Linked DNA regions of Homo sapiens: region 2 is linked to region 1. A link means that fine-mapping ties the variant in region 1 to the expression of a gene that starts in the linked region. Tissue or cell type: whole blood. Region 1 holds a variant in brackets; the other region holds the start of a gene. All regions are shown on one strand. Distances are between the middles of the regions.

The links. PIP is the estimated chance that this variant, and not a neighbour inherited with it, causes the effect.
Region 2: it holds the start of MICU3, and the variant in region 1 is fine-mapped to the expression of MICU3 in whole blood (INTERVAL, PIP above 0.99).

The regions. Positions count from the first base shown.
Region 1 is chr8:17,068,993-17,076,992 of GRCh38, forward strand. MICU3 (mitochondrial calcium uptake family member 3) reads left to right here. Exons shown (of 15, transcript NM_181723.3): 3 at 696-727. Among named protein-coding and RNA genes, the nearest start is that of MICU3, 46 kb to the left of the region's middle. The variant T/C (reference allele first, on the strand shown) is at 3,184.
Region 2 is chr8:17,022,915-17,031,086 of GRCh38, forward strand. MICU3 (mitochondrial calcium uptake family member 3) reads left to right here and starts at 4,324. Exons shown (of 15, transcript NM_181723.3): 1 at 4,324-4,746. The coding sequence starts at 4,366. RefSeq lists a silencer at 4,302-4,711 and an enhancer at 4,862-4,951.

The sequences.
Region 1 (8,000 bases):
CTATACATTTGTCCCAACATTTTAAGTTTTACAGTGTTTGAGATCTTTGGGGGTGTGAGGAGGAATCACAAAAAGAAAGTGATCCCTGACATTTTATTCAGCTGTAACACTCTTACTCCAGTGATGCTTCTTGAATAGTTGTAGGGAAGAGTAATGAAACAGGACAAGTTTCCCCATCACTTTGCCTAGCCTCCCTTTCCTTTCTTTTTTTCTTTCCCCAATCCTTCTTCATCCTAGAGAGACCTGACCTGTGAATTACGTCATGGAACACTAGTATAGCAAAGATCACAAGTAATACCTTAAAATTATAGTTTATCTATGTTAATGTTATTTTATATTCTAGTTTGAATATTTTATAAGTATCATTATTTGTGCTTTTAAGCCCACAAGATGTTTAACATGGAGAAAGTTAGCTTACTTTATTAGTCCAGAAAGCCCAAATTAAGATGATACGGCTGTGGAGAAATGTTTCCTGTATCACTGATACTTACTATGAACAGTGCATAGTATATATGAAGCAAATAGATAACATATATAAGATCATATCACAGATCCAAATTTTGAGGTTAAAAGAAAACTTTGCCTTTTGGACATAAAAGTTTGGTTATGAGTTATGGTTGTAGATGGTTAGCAAATATGGATATATATTCCATGAAGTATTTATTATCTAATTATCTTACATTTGTTTATTTTAGTTGCCAAAACTTGGAAGTCACTTTCCAAACAGGTGAGTTAAAGCTCTTGGTAGATATACACAAATTTTATATGTGCATGCATATATACATATATAATTAAAATATATTTCATAAAATATATTATGTATTTTTATATATTTTATGATTTTTTGGCAAATCAAATCACATCAGAGTTCCTTTTTTTATCCTCCAGATTGTCAGAAAATAAAAAGGTGGACGTTTCTAAGGGCTGGTGAAAATGTAGATTACTGGTAAATCTCATGTGTTGGTATACTCACTTTGGAAAACAATTTGGCATTATCTACTAAAATTGGCGATATGCCTACCCTATACCTAGTAAATACATGCCTGCATTTAAATTCTGCAGTAGTGCATGCGCATGTACCTTGTAAAGTTGAACTTGAATAGACTCTGTGATCTAGTAATTTCTACTAAATACACTGGTATCTAGCATATACCAGTGTATATACCTAGGGAAATTCTTGCTTATATGCAGGAGAGGTTCACAAGAATGTTTATAGATTATATATGATGGCCCCAAAACTTTAATATATCAATACTATACCATAAATAAATGTTGATATATTCATATAGTATACTACACAATAGTGAAAACAAATGAATTTTAACAGTGCTTTAACTAAATAAGTCTCAGAAACATGATGGTAAAGAAAATAAGCAGTTCAAAAATACAAAGTATAATTCTATTTGTATAAAGTCCAAAACTGAGAAAGTGAAATCATATTATTTAGGATACATTCATACGTGGGAAAACAAAGGAATAATTAACATTAAATTCAAGAAAGTATTCATCTTCAGGATGATAGCAGGGAATATCATCAGTGATGGGCTCAAAGAGGCTTTAAAGTACTGCTAATTTTCTATTTTTTAAGTTAACTATTTCTTAACTTTAAATTGCATATATATTCCTTTTATATTTTTATAGATATGTTTTTTTTTTTTAAAAAAAAGAATATTAGAAATCTAGGGAACGTCCTTAACTAGTTAAAGGGAATCCTCCAAAAGCCTACAGCAAATGTCATGGTCATTTGTGAAACTTGAGAGACATTGTCTTTAAAGTTAGGTATATTAGTCCCCGTTTATCAGTGGGTAATATGCTCTAAGACCCCTGGTAATGAATGCTGAAAATTTGGAAAGTACTGAACCCTATATGTACTATGTTTTTTCAGTTTGGTAGACGAGAGAACTACTAAGTGCCTAACAGGTGGGTAGCATATACAGCGTGGATATACTGGGTAAAGGGATGATTCACATCCTGGATAGGACAGAGTTGGACAGTGTGAGATTTCATCATGCTACACAGAACAGTGCGCAACTTAAAACTTAGGAATTGTTTATTTTTGGAACTTTCTATTTAATGTTTTTGGACTGCAGTTGACTGAGGGTCACAGAAACTGTAGAAAGCTAAGCCTCAAATAAGGGGGAACTACTGTACAGTGCAAATATGCCTGCTGTCACAACTGTTCCATAGCATTTTACTGGAAGTCTGGGCTAGTATAGTATACTAGGGCTGCTATGACAAAATATCACAGATTGAGTGGGTTTAACACCAGACATTTATTTTCTCACGGTTCTGGGGGCTTGAAGTCTGAGATCCAGGTGTCAGCAGGTTAGTTTCTTCTGAGGCCTCTCCCCTTAGCTTTTAGGTAGCAATCTTCTTCCTCTGTCTTCACATGGTCTTTCCTCTGGGCATGTCTGTGTCCTAATCTCTTCTTATAAGGACGTCAGTCATATTGGATTAGGGCTCATCCTGATGACCTTATATAATAACCTAATTACCTCTTTAAAGAAAGGTCCTCTCTGCAAAACAGTCAGATTCTGAGGTACTGGGGCTTAGGACTTCAACATATGAATCGGGGAGAGGGGCACAATTGAGACCATAATATGTAGTATGAAAAAAAGAAGAGGCTCTAAGGATTAGAATAGAGGCACAGAATAGAATGTGATTGGAAGAAAAATGTAAAAATACATAAATTTTAGATTTGTTTAAATTTAATAAAAGTTTAGCAAGATTGCTACTGGATATAACAGCAATAAACCAAAGTTAAGAAGATGCTCCACACCAGCGAGAGCAATTAGAAACTAGTATTGAATAAAATGCATTTCATAATAGAAACAAGAACTATTAGGTACTTAAAAGCAATGCCTAACAGAAGATGTACAAAACATTATTAAATTATGTTTTTAAAAATACAAGTAAATGGAGAACTGTATCATGTTCATACTGGTAATAAGCCATTTCCTTATGATAATGATCCTCCAAATCTATCTATAAATTCAATGTAACTCCAATTAAAATCCCAACCAAATTGATCCGAAATTAACTTTTAAAATTAATCTGGATGAGTAAGGGCCCCAAAATATTTAGAACAATTCTGAAAAGGAAAGAGGGAAAAAAAACCATTGAGATGAGAATAATGGGGTTGATCACATATCAAGATTAGAAATAGAGCTATAATAAATAAAG[T/C]AGTATTACATCATTGCAAGGATATTTTTAAAAACTAGATCAAGGTAATAGAATATAGAATCCAGAAACAGATCCAGGTATATATAGGTAGATCTGTAAATCAGTGGCAGAAAGATTGACCTCTCAATCATAGATGTTTGAATAATAACTTTTCCATGGAGGGGGCAAATTAGGCCTCAGATTTACTACCATATACAAAAACTAATTTCAGATGGATTAAGTTCTTATTTGTGACAAAAATTCTCTAAGATTAAAAGCAAAAATGAGAGGCATGAGAGGTTTTTTTTTTTTTAGATAAGACACAAAGCAAAACTCAAAATTATTGGCAATGTTTACTAAACTAAATATTTGAAAGCTTAGCATCAAAACACAGTGTAAACAATGTTAAAAGATGTATGATGGATGGGAGGATATGCATGCAACATATCAACAGAAGAGGGTAAGTGTCTTGCAGTCACGTAGAACCCCTTTTTTTATCTTTGTAAAAAAGATTATGGCTTAATAAGAAAAAAATAGACAAATATGCCTACAATGGCCACTGAATATATGTAAAGGAGGTGAACCTTACTAGTAACTTAGGGTGTGCAAATTAAACCAATGATACGATACTATTTGACACCCGCCAGATGGTGAGCTTCCAGAAATCTGACAATACCCATAATTAGCAAGGAGAACAAGAAGGAACCAGGTCAGAATATAAACTGGTGTATTTACTTTTTAATTTTTTTTGAGATAGAGTCTCTCCCTGTCACCCAGGCTGGAGTGCAGTGAGTGGCACGATCTTGGCTCACTCCATCTTCTGCCTCCTGGGCTCAAGTGATCCCCCTACCTCAGCCTCCTGAGTAGCTGGGACCACAGGCACACACCACCATGCCCAGCTAATTTTTGCATTTTTAGTAGAGACAGGGTTTTGCTCTGTCACCCAGGCTGGGGTATATTTACTTTTGAGTGAAATTTGGCAATACCTAATAATGTTGAAAATGCATATGAGAAATCCCTCTTGTAGAAATGCATACTAGAGAAATGTTTTCAGATTTGCCACAGAAATCCTATATATCAGATCGCCCCCTTCCCGTGAAGCTTCGTCTGTATTTACAGCCACTCTCCATCACTCATTGCTCACATTACTGCCTGAGCTCTGCCTCCTGTTAGATCAGTGGCAGCATTAGATTCTCATAGGAGCCCAAACCCTATTGTGAACTGGCATGTGAGGGATCTAAGTTGTGTGCTTCTTATGAGAATCTAATGCCTGATGATATGTCACTGTCTCCCATCACCCCCAGATAGGACCATCTAGTTGCAAGAAAACAAGCTCAGGACTCCCACTGATTGTACATTATGATGAGATGTATAATTATTTCATTATATGTTACATTGTAATAATAATAGAAATAGAGTGCACAATAAATGTAATGCACTTGAATCATCCCCAGAACATTTCCTCTTCCTCCCTCCTGGTCTGTGGAAAAATTGTCTTCCAAGAAACCAGTCCCTGGTGCCAAAAAGGTTGGGGACTGCTGCTATATGTGTTTCCTGAACATCAATTGTAATAGCAAAAATTTGGGAACAATATGTCAATCATCAGGCAGGTGAATGAAAAATTTGTGAAATAGAGAAACCCAGGATAAATGTAGAATTACAGAGTGAAAATGAATAAATACATTATAGCTATGTGTATTAACATGAGTAGAACTAGAAAACAAGGTTGAGTAAAAGGGCAAGTTGCAAAATAATATTAACTGACAGTCATTTAAAGTGCAAATACCTTTTCAAAGGTCCATGAAGTCAAAACTATTTTCATCATAATATTGAGAAGATACTTGTTTTATTCACTGTCATTCTCTCATGAGTGTATGGTGGAGTTTTCTTTTTCTTTTTGGTTTTTTTTTTTATTTTTTATTTTTAGTAGAGAGGGGGTTTCACCGTGGTCTCCATCTCCTGACCTCGTGATCCGCCCGCCTCGGCCTCCCAAAGTGCTGGGATTACAGGTGTGAGCTGCCGTGCCCAGCCTGTATAGTGGAATTTTCTAGAGGCTGTTTGGTAATGATGCCATTGCTCTACCAACTAATGGAATGTGTGTTTGTGTTTTATTGTGTTTTAAAAATTTGTTTTTATTTTCAAATAAATTAAATATTGATAGATATAACCCATATAGACAATATCTCTTTTGGGTCCATAATATTTTTAAGAATGTGAAGAGTTTCCTTTCAGAACTGCTACTATAGACAACTGCTGTGTAGCCATTAAAATAAAAATGAAGAATATTTGACAGGAAAATATGCTCACTATAATATATTAAATGTAAAGGGTAAATTATAAAACAGTATGTAGAGAATGATTTAATATTTGCAGCAACAACAAAAATACTATAGAAATATGCCTAGCTGGAGAATCAGACTAAAATGATGTTAAAACGTGTGTGTGTGTGTGTGTGTGTGTGTGTGTGTGTGTGTGTGTGTTTAACTTGCCACCCCTAGAGACAATTAACTTTAGTCTAAAACTTAAGTTTGTCATCCCTGGATTACAATTAGTTTTTATTTTCTGTACTTACTAATTTTTCTATAATATATATCTATTAACTATAATTTTTTTAATAGTACTTATTTAAGAAAATTACGTAACTCTTTTAAAAGGCAACTATAATTCTAGGAGACTGACTTTAATTCAGCAAATATTTATTTTCTACCTACAATTTAATTCTGACGCTAACCACTCCGAGTTTAAGCATGGTGCCTAACAAGACTGCCCTCATTTCAGATGCTTGTTGCAAGTTTCGGGGCTCCAGGCCACCCACACTCTGACCTTACTGTCTACAAGTCTAGGAGGTTGCCACAGCTCCCCTCAGGTTTAATGATTTGCTATAATGAATCATAGAACTCAGAAAATGCAGTACCTATGGTTATGGTTTTATTAGATAGAATACAGAGTAAGACCAGCCAGATGAAGAGAGAGGGCAAGGTCTGGGAAGGTCCTGAACACAGAGCTTCTATGCCTTCTTTGAGAACATGGAGTTGGGGTGTGTCACCGTCCTAGCACAGCAGCGTGTTCAACAACCAGAAAGCTCCTCTGAGCTTAGTGCTTAGAATTTTTATTAGGGTTTCATTACATAGGCATGATTGAATTATTGGCTGTGTGATTGAACTTAATCTGTAGCCTCTCTCTTCTCCCCAGAGGTCAAGCTCACTAAAGCCCCAACTCTGTAATCACAGTTATTCTTTCTGGTAAGCAGTTCCCCTCCTGAGTCATCTCCTTAGCATAAACTCGGGTATGAACCAAGGATTTAGAGTCTGCTTCCTAGGACCCAGGGACAAAGGCCAAATTCTTTATAATATGGCACTGCTACATACGAAACCAAGCTAGGAGTTTGGAGGAGGGAGAGAGATTCCTGACATGGGTGGAAATATAAAAAATTTAATAAATTTTAGAGGTCCTTAAAGTTAACAGAGAAGTCAAGATGAATGTGTTGATTGGATGATTTAGACCGGGAGAAACTAGATTATTACTAAAATAAGCTACTTGGTGTCAGTAAGGATCTGGGCTCTGTCATTTATTAGTTCTGTGACCTTGGGTGTTACTTATCCACTTTAAGTCTCAGTAAAATATGCATAATGAGGATTGTTTTTAGAATGAAGTTATTATATGAGCCTATTGTCAAACCCATAGAGGGCACCCAATAAAAGCTAGCTTTGATTTTTCAGTCTTACACTGTAGCTGAGTTTAAGTTAGAACAGATGAGGTTGGAAGACATGGAAACAGTTAAAATGGAGAAAGATTAGTTAATATTTATACAGTTACAATAGAGATGGTATAAATTAAGCTATGTAAAATTTATTCAGAATGTTGTTTTTTAAGTTTTTTTATATTTTTTTGAGACAGGTCTCACTCTGTTTGCCTAGGCTGGAGTGCAGTGGTGTGATCATGGCTCACTATAGCCTCGACTTCCTGGGCTCAAGTGATTTTTCCACCTCAGCCTCCTGAGTAAGCTGGGACTATAGATGAACGCCACCATGCCCAGCTAATTGTTTGTCTGTTTGTTTGTTTGTGAAATGGGGTTTTGCCATGTTGCCCAGGCTGGTCTAAAACTCTTGGATTCAAGGGATCTACCCACCTCAGCCTCCCAAAGTGCTGAGATTATAGGCCTGAGCCACTGAGTCCCACCCAGAATGTTTTATTTAATCTCTCAATCTAACAAAAATATTTGAGTTTACTGTTGTCTAAACAATAAACATCCCAGTTTCTCATTACAATTCGGACCTGAATTATTCTGTGCCATTCCTATTCTATAATCAGATGCACTGATTATCTGCTGGCATCTTTTACCTGCAGTGCAGATACAGAAACATGAAAAACACAAACACAAGAATCCACATATGGGCTTCAAGGTGTCCATAAATCCCCTAAAAATGCTGTTCCTGCCTTTGACATACCAAGAATTTTTCTTCCTGCTAGCTCAGCTTTGCAGTTAAACAAAAATGATTTATAAATGTCAGAAAGCATTTTTAGGTACAGCTGCGTCAGAAATGGTTTGTCTGAAATGCCTTCCAAACTTCAATGTGTGTAAAAATTAGAAGATGTTGTTAAAAATGCAGGTTGTGGTTCAGTAGGTCTGGGATGGGCACTGAGATTCTGCATTTCGCACAAGCTCTCAGGTGATGCTTAAACTATTGGGGAGCCACATGCTCTGAGGAGTGGGTGTCAGATCTGAAAATAGAAGTGGGTTCTGTGTTTGTCTAATGTGTTTCTAAGCAGACTAACTTTGTTGTTTCAAATTATTTCAAGTTATCTCACCGTCTTTTAATCATTTTTCTTCACAATTA
Region 2 (8,172 bases), 46 kb before region 1:
CCTAGCCCACACTCTATCTGTGATCCTTCTTTGCCAGTCCCTTGCTTTTTCCCTTTGGCCTCCCATCTGTGTTGATTGCATTTCCTCATTGATGTGCTGCTTGGTTTGTCAGCTTGTTTAGTGTCTGATGGGCCATTGTATTTCCTTGTCACCTAACTTGCCTTCCTATGTTGACCTCCACCTTCCCCCCTTTTCAAGACATTGCTTTTCATTTAGTAAATATAATTGAGGTCCTAATGTGTGCCAGGAACTGGGCTAGAAGATGCATACCCTGGCCTCATGTTGCTTAGAGTCAGCTTGGCTTTGCCTAATGGAAAAAGGGTGAGATACAGATCACAGTCTTTGGGAATGAGAGCTCATCAAAACAGAAAACAGACCCTCAGTGTCTTGTGTAACTTGGTTTCCATAGCCCTGGATGCTGAGGAATTGAGTTCTAGATTGCTGGTGGGTAGCACTTTGAAGAAAACAGAGCAAGAACATACCTTCCCCAACACTGTCTCCTATGTCAGTTTTGCCCTAAGGAAGACAGCATGGAAGGTGGAAGGCAATTTGAGAAAATGATGACAACTTTCCCAAGAGAGAAGAAGATGGTTGCAACCTTGCTCTCTGCTGGTAGACTTGAGTGGACCTGGGGATGGGGTGGTTCATGTGCCCTGATACAGATCTCAGATGTAACTGCTGCTCTTTTAACTAGTCAAGAATCTGGAGCTCAGAATGACCAAAATAAGGAATGCAGTATATTTTAATAGAAGTTTTGTTAAACAAGACATTCCTGCCTATTGCACTTATATTCCACTTTTTCAAACTTTTCAAAATCACTAACGTATTTGCAATTTTAAATGCAGTAGAAGGTTAAAATAATTAGATAAAGGAATGGATTTTTTTTTTTTTAAACATAGTCTTGCTCTCTCACCCAGGCTAGAGTGCAGTGGCTCAGTGATGGCTTACTGCAACCTCCTTTTCCCCGGTTCAAGCCATCCTCCTATTTCAGCCTCCCGAGTAGCTGGGACCATAAGCACGCACCACTATGCCTGGCTAATTTTTGTATTTTTTGTAGAGACGAAGTTTTGCCATATTGCCCAGGTTGGTCTCGAACTCCTGAGTGATCAACTCACCTTGGCCTCCCAAAGTGCTGGGATTACAGACGTTAGCCTGCGTGGTCCGGGGATGGAATTTTAAGTTGAAAGAATAAAACAATCTTAGGCCAATTGTAGATTTTCAGAAGAGAAATGATACATGAAAAATACCATGAAGTATCTTTCTATGGTTTACTGATACACTTGGAGCATTTTAGTTCATTAGAAAGATGGGTTCAGGGGTGATCATCTATTTCAACTCCACTATTTTAGAGACTGTGGCTTCCAAAGCATTATAATTAAGATGCAGCAAATCCAAGACTGGAGTCCAGATTTCTTCACTTCTAATTTATTACTTATTCACTGAGGTATATGCTTTCCTGGAAAACCCTTTTTGGCTTAATCCCCATTGTTTGAAACATTTTTATTGTTTCAGAACATTTCTTTTTATTTAGACCATAGTGAACGATAAGTGGATATTTCTTTCAAGGTGTGGGCTCTCACTGTGGAGTAGGGGCATTTTGGGGGTTATTCTTAATGCTCAGTAGAATTGACATAAAAGATAAGGGATACTGGGTTGACTCTATATTGATCCAACAATATTACCTGAAATTTCAAAAAAAAAAGGTTCCAAATTCCTAATATCATATTTTCTTAAAATTTTTCCTCTGGGAATTAAACTCAGAAAAATATCCACATAACAAGGGAATTTGGTTATTTTTGTGTAGCTATAGTTACAGAGCATCAAACGTGGGAAGAAAACAGTAACTATTCTTAAGGAAATTTCACCTTTAGAGGGAAAGTACTGTTGAAAATTATTAGTAAAGCTGTTTTTGCACGTGAGAGGTATTTTATCCAAAGTTCTCTGACTGATCTACAAACATAAACTTAGCCCTTCTCACAGCAGTACTTAGCTTCTAACCAGATAAATTGTTTGCAGGAGCTCTATCAAATTTAGAAAACTATAGAGAAACTACATAGAAATCTATACGTATGTGTCTGTATTTGTCATCTTAGATGAAGGATGTCATTTTCCTCATCTGTAATGTGATGTTATTGTATTACCTCCCTAATCTTCTTTAGAACTACTTAGCTTTTAACATGCAACTAGTAAAAATTGATCAGTTTGTCCAAGAATTCTGGCATTAGACTATAATAAGAATTTATGAGAAAATCAGGAAATCATGTTCAGTTCAAAGTAAACAGTGTCAGAACTATTATTATAATTTTTTTTTTTTGAGACAGAGTTTCGCTCTGTCACCCACGCTGGAGTGCAGCGGCACAGTCTCGGCTCACTGAAACCTCCACCTCCCGGGTTCAAACAGTTCTCCTGTCCCAGGCTCCTGAGTAGTTGGGACTACAGGCGCATGCCACCACACCTGGCTTTTTTTTTTTTAAGTTTTTTGTATTTTTAGTAGAGATGGGGTTTCACCGTGTTAGCCAGGATGGGCTCTATCTCCTGACCTCATGATCCACCCGCCTCGGCCTCCCAAAGTGCTGGGATTACAAGTGTGAGCCACCACGCCCGGCCAATATGATTATTATATTATATATAATATATATAATTATTACCCAGAAGATAATTTATTTGGGGAAACTACCATTTCACAGAATATAGAGAAAGCATAAATTGAGGAAAATTTGGTGATAAAGCAAGACGCTATCAGAGTCTTCCTTAGGCATTGACTCCATAAAACCCACAGGCTGAAACTGAAGAAAACTCAGAGACAGGTTTTAAAATACACAAAATTTGTTCATCTGCTACAGAAGATTTTTCTTCTTACCGCTTTTAGCAGCTTTAAGAAAGCAAAATGCCATTAACCTCTATTAAAATAAGAGGTAACAGGGTGTACCTGATGTGCTATTTACATGCAAGGTGTTAGGAATAGAAATTGCAGGACCTCCAGGAGTTCGAGGCCAGCCAGGCCAAGATGGTGAGACCCCCATCTCTACTAAAAACACAAAAATTAGCCAGGCACGGTGGCGGGTGCCTGTAATCCCAGCTACTCGGGAGGCTGAGGCAGGAGAATCGCTTGAACCAGGGAGACGGACGTTGCAGTGAGCCGAGAATGTGCCACTGCACTCTAGCCTGGGCAACAGAGCAAGACTCCGTCTCAAAAAAAGAAAAAAAAAAGGGAAGAAATTGTAGGACCTGAGCCAGAAAAAACTCATTTGGTCGTCTCTGAAAGCCTTTAGTCTTTACAAGAATTGCCAGAATCAACTGATGGTGTATTCTCTTGTCACTGCAGCCCAATTGAGACCACTGTATTTAGTTGTCTGTCCCCTTAGATCCACAATATTTTAGGGACTCCTGGCACCATTCCATAGTAGGAAGAAAAAGCTAACATAATTCAAGTTACCAAAACTGGGGTCTGGGGAGAGAAACTGATAGGAACTTCATCTACACTTTCTCATAAAAACTGATACTGATAACATAGCAAACAAAAAGTACAGTAAAAACAAAAAGATGACACAATACGCTTCTCATTTATTTTATATTTATACAAACAGCGCTTCCCTGAAAAATCAGGGTATCGTTCAAGATTTTATCTTTATTCACAGAAGTTTTAAAATTTTTAACTTTTATATGCACAAGACAGTTCTGATTTGTTGAATTAAGTGACCGCGGGTGTGCTAATGCTTCTAAAAAACAGCATTAGCCTTCTCCCATCAAAAGTCCGGAAGCTGCCCTTCAGTCGTCAAAGTGTTTGCCTTAATTTGCAATCGTTATGACTTGAGCCAAATGCTTATACCTCATTTGTGTCGTATATGTGAAGATACAATTGCAAATCGTTCACGACCTTGAGTCAAGACCTTGAGTTTCCTGAGGTCAGGAGACCGTTAGGGAATGTGAGTGTCCCAGACGGGCGCTGAGCCCAGCTCGGAGACCCACCCCGCCCGTAGCAGCGGCGCGGGCCCCAGAGAGCCCCGCACTCGGCCGCGCCTCAGTTACGCTGACTCGGCTGTGCCCGCAGTGTCGCGCTGTCGCGTAGCCAGGTGTCGCCGGGCTGGCGCGGTTATTTATGACTGCGTGGTTGGGCTGGGGGTTCGGGGCCGGGGAGCAGCCGGGATCCGCCGCCTCTTCCATGATCTTCCCGGGCCGAACCACGGGACCGCTACGCTGAAGGTGGCGTCGCGGGTCCCCGGGGCCGCGCGAGTGTAGGGGTCGCTCTCGGCCGGCCGCGAAGCTCGCGGCACCGACTTCTCGCGAGATTTCGGCGACCCCCCCCCCCGCCCCCGCCCCTCCGTTCTCTGCCCCCTCCCAGCTCTGGTGTGGGCGGCCTCCGCTATGGCTGCGCTGCGAAGGCTCTTGTGGCCGCCACCCCGGGTGTCTCCTCCACTCTGCGCTCACCAGCCCCTCCTTGGGCCGTGGGGGCGGCCTGCGGTGACCACCCTGGGCCTTCCTGGCCGGCCCTTCTCCTCCCGAGAGGATGAGGAGAGGGCTGTGGCGGAGGCGGCATGGAGGCGGCGGCGGCGCTGGGGGGAGCTGAGCGTGGCGGCGGCGGCCGGCGGGGGGCTGGTCGGCCTGGTATGCTACCAGCTGTACGGGGACCCCAGGGCCGGCTCGCCGGCGACCGGGCGACCCTCAAAGAGCGCGGCCACGGAGCCCGAGGACCCGCCCCGCGGCCGGGGGATGCTGCCCATCCCAGTGGCGGCTGCCAAGGAGACGGTGAGTGCGCGAGCGCGCGTCACACCTGCGCGGGGGATGTGACCTTCGTGCCGGGTACGCAGGACCCTGGAGGCTGTGGGGACGGTGCAAGCGCTGTGGCCGCGGGTGAGGAACTTCCCGTGAGCGAGGCTGACACCTAGGCCGGACAGCCTAGGATCCGGTCACCCACGTATTGGGAAGACCAGTGATGCTGTCCCTGATGCATCAGGACCTTAAAGGTGGCTGCAGCTACCAAGTATCAATCCAAACCCAAAACCAACACCCCTCCCCCTCTTACAAAAAAAGATTCAGAAATGAAGGCCATGACAGGCAGAAAGTGGACCGCTGTAGGTGTGGGAAAAAGGAACTCCTAGATTGCGCGGGGCGACAGCTAATGACCCAGGAGGTCTGTTGCATTAGAATGAGTTTCGAAGCAGCGGTCTGAGATCTCAAAAGCCACTACTTTAGCATATGAGAATTTATTAGTCCCAAGAAAGGAAATGCTAAACCTGCATGCTAACGCCCTTATCATACCCAGGGAATGTTGATGTTACCAGGTCTGAAAAGAAATAAAAAATTGTTCAAAAAGAGACATAAGTATTTCTCTCTTTTTCCTTCCCCCACTAAAGCCAGAATCCCGTTAGTAGGTAACGATAAAACACAAAATGGATAGGATAGCAAATGTAGGAGGCTGTGAATGACACAAACTCCTACAGAAGAAAGTCACGTGAAAATGTTCAACTGTCATTATGTAGTTAATAATACAAGGTAAAGATGTGTGAAAGGCAACAGTGAGTAAAGGAGCGTGATTTTTTTTGTCGCATCAGTATATTTAATAGTCATGTAAATGACTAGGAAAATTAAGGAGATTTTCCTTGCAAGGCTCGAAGAATGTGAACGGCGTAGATGAAAATAATTTAGAAAACAGAGAGCTATGCTGTTTCTAATGCAATTTTTATAGGCTTTGTTCTTAATACGCAGTGGTGATCTGATGTAAGTGCATCATTTCCTTTGGTGGAGGTTGTCAATGCAATTAGGTTACGGAATCTGCTTTATGGACTATCTAGCAGCAGATCACAAGCACATAACATAAAGTCCTTTTACACATGAATATTCAAAATACTAGGAAATACCCTCAAATCTCCACCCCCTCCCCCTTCACAAATACACATCCACTTTTGTGGCTTGGCAAGGAGCATAGCGTTTTTCATGATGGCAGAACTTTTAATTAACCATAGTTGGTCTAGGAACAGATCAGCAAGGTAGGGAATTCAAGTAGTATTTTCTTTTCTTTCTTAAAATTAATTTTACTTTTACAGTTGAGAGATGTTATCTTGCAGTTTTTAAAAAGACCACGTTCAGAAAGCTAGAACTTTGGCTCCACGACTTGCTACTTGTGTCATTATGGAGAAATTACTTGACCTGTCAATGCCTGTTTCCTCACCTGTGAAATGAGGCTAATAGTCTCCTGGGGTGTTATGAGAGTTAAATGAGTTAACACAGTATATTTAAAACAATGGTACTACTAAAGAACATTAAATAAATTTATTTTTTGGCTGAGCGTGGTGGCTCACGCCTGTAATCCCAGCACTTTGGGAGGTCGAGGCAAGCAGATCACCTGAGGTCAGGAGTTCGAGACAAGCCTGGCCAACATGGCGAAACCTCGTCTCTACTAAAAATACAAAAATCAGCCGGGTGTGGTGTTGGGCGCTTGTAATCCCAGCTACTGGCAAGGCTGAGGTAGGAGAATCACTTGAACCTGGGAGACAGAGGTTGCAGTGAGCCGAAATCACACCTCTGCACCCCAGCCTGGGTGACAAGAGCGAAACTCCATCTCAAAAAAAAAAATTATTTTTTATTCGTTTATTTATTTTGTACTTTTGTGCAGTTATTATTGCTTAGTGTTTATAAAAATTTCTGTTCATTGTTTTAGAAGTCAAATAATGTTAAAGTCCTGTGTCTTATGCTTCCCTAGCCTCTAGTCCTACTTTCTGATTGTCATGCCTTTTGTATTTCCCTCTCTGAAAACTTTTATGATCTGTTTATCCCTGGTGCTTGAAATTTTCACAGTAATGAGCTTCGGGATGTGTATTTTTTCACTGATTGTGCTAGGTTCTTAAGAGGCCTTTCAATATGGAAATCCGTGTCTAAAAAATTCTGTGTAATTTTCTTCTATTGTTTCTTTGATGATTTTTCTCTTCTCCCTCTTTCTATTCTCTTTTTCTGGAAATGCTGTTTCTTTGAAGTTAAATTTCCTGACAGATCCTAATCTAATTCTAATCATTCTTATATTTCGGTTTTAAAAAATATTTTCATCTGTTTATTTGTTTTTATAGCAGATATCCTGGGCTTTATCTTCCAACCTTCCTACTGAATTTTTTTATTTCTGCTATTCTACTTTTTTAATTCAAAGAGCGACTTTGTGTTCTCTGTTGTTGATGAGTTATAGCATTCTATTTTGCTTTCTATATGGCTGCTATATTTTCTCTTTTTGCTGTAAGGATATAAATTATAACTTTGTTTTGCCTTCTAAGGATATAAATTATAACTTTGGCCTTCTCTGTGCATTGCTTTGTTTCTTCCAGGTTCTTTTTTATTTCTGTTTGATTTTATAAGCTCTTGCTTTCATTTTGGAGGTTTTCCTCACATATCTGTGGTTGTTACCTGTCTCTTACTTGAGAACCTCTCAGAGGGTGTCTGTGCATAACATGTCCTTTCATCTGCACGAAAGGGCTTCTTATTAGTGTAACATCCAAATGTCAGTATTTTACAGCTCTTTTTCTCTGATGCTGTTGAGCGTCTACAAAAAATAGGAGAGATGAGAGGTGCAGTAGTCTTCTGGCAGCAGGCACATGTGCACATATATGTAACACCACTTATGTTGGTGAGTATTATGGGCTTCTTATTAGTGTAACATCCAAATGTCAGTATTTTATACCTCTTTTTCTCTGATGCTGTTGAGCGTCTACAAAAAATAGAGATGGGAGGTGTAGTAGTCTTCTGGAAGCAGGCACAGGTGCACATATATGTAACAGCACTTATGTTGGTGAGTATCTAATGATATACTTAGGTATTGTTATCTAATCCTCTGCTTTTAGCCCAACTACTTACTCTGATTCCATAGCTCCATAGTTCCCAAGGCCTTGTCCGTTTTGGGATTCTGTATAGCAAATATTAATACCTTACTTCTATTTGGTCTCTGCAGAACTCAGGTAGTGCCTCTGTTCTCTTAAGTCAATTATCACTCCTCCATCTCTTCAATTTTATAAAAATTTTATAAATTCTCTTGAATGTTTTAGTTTCCCATTCTTTTCTCTATCTTAGCTCTTTTGTATTTTTACCTTTTTATACTCCTTTACTGTGAATTTAATGTGGTTAGGGGAAGAAGATGTTGAAATAGAATCATGGAGTCAATCTGCCATTTTTCAGAAATACTATTTTAGTGGC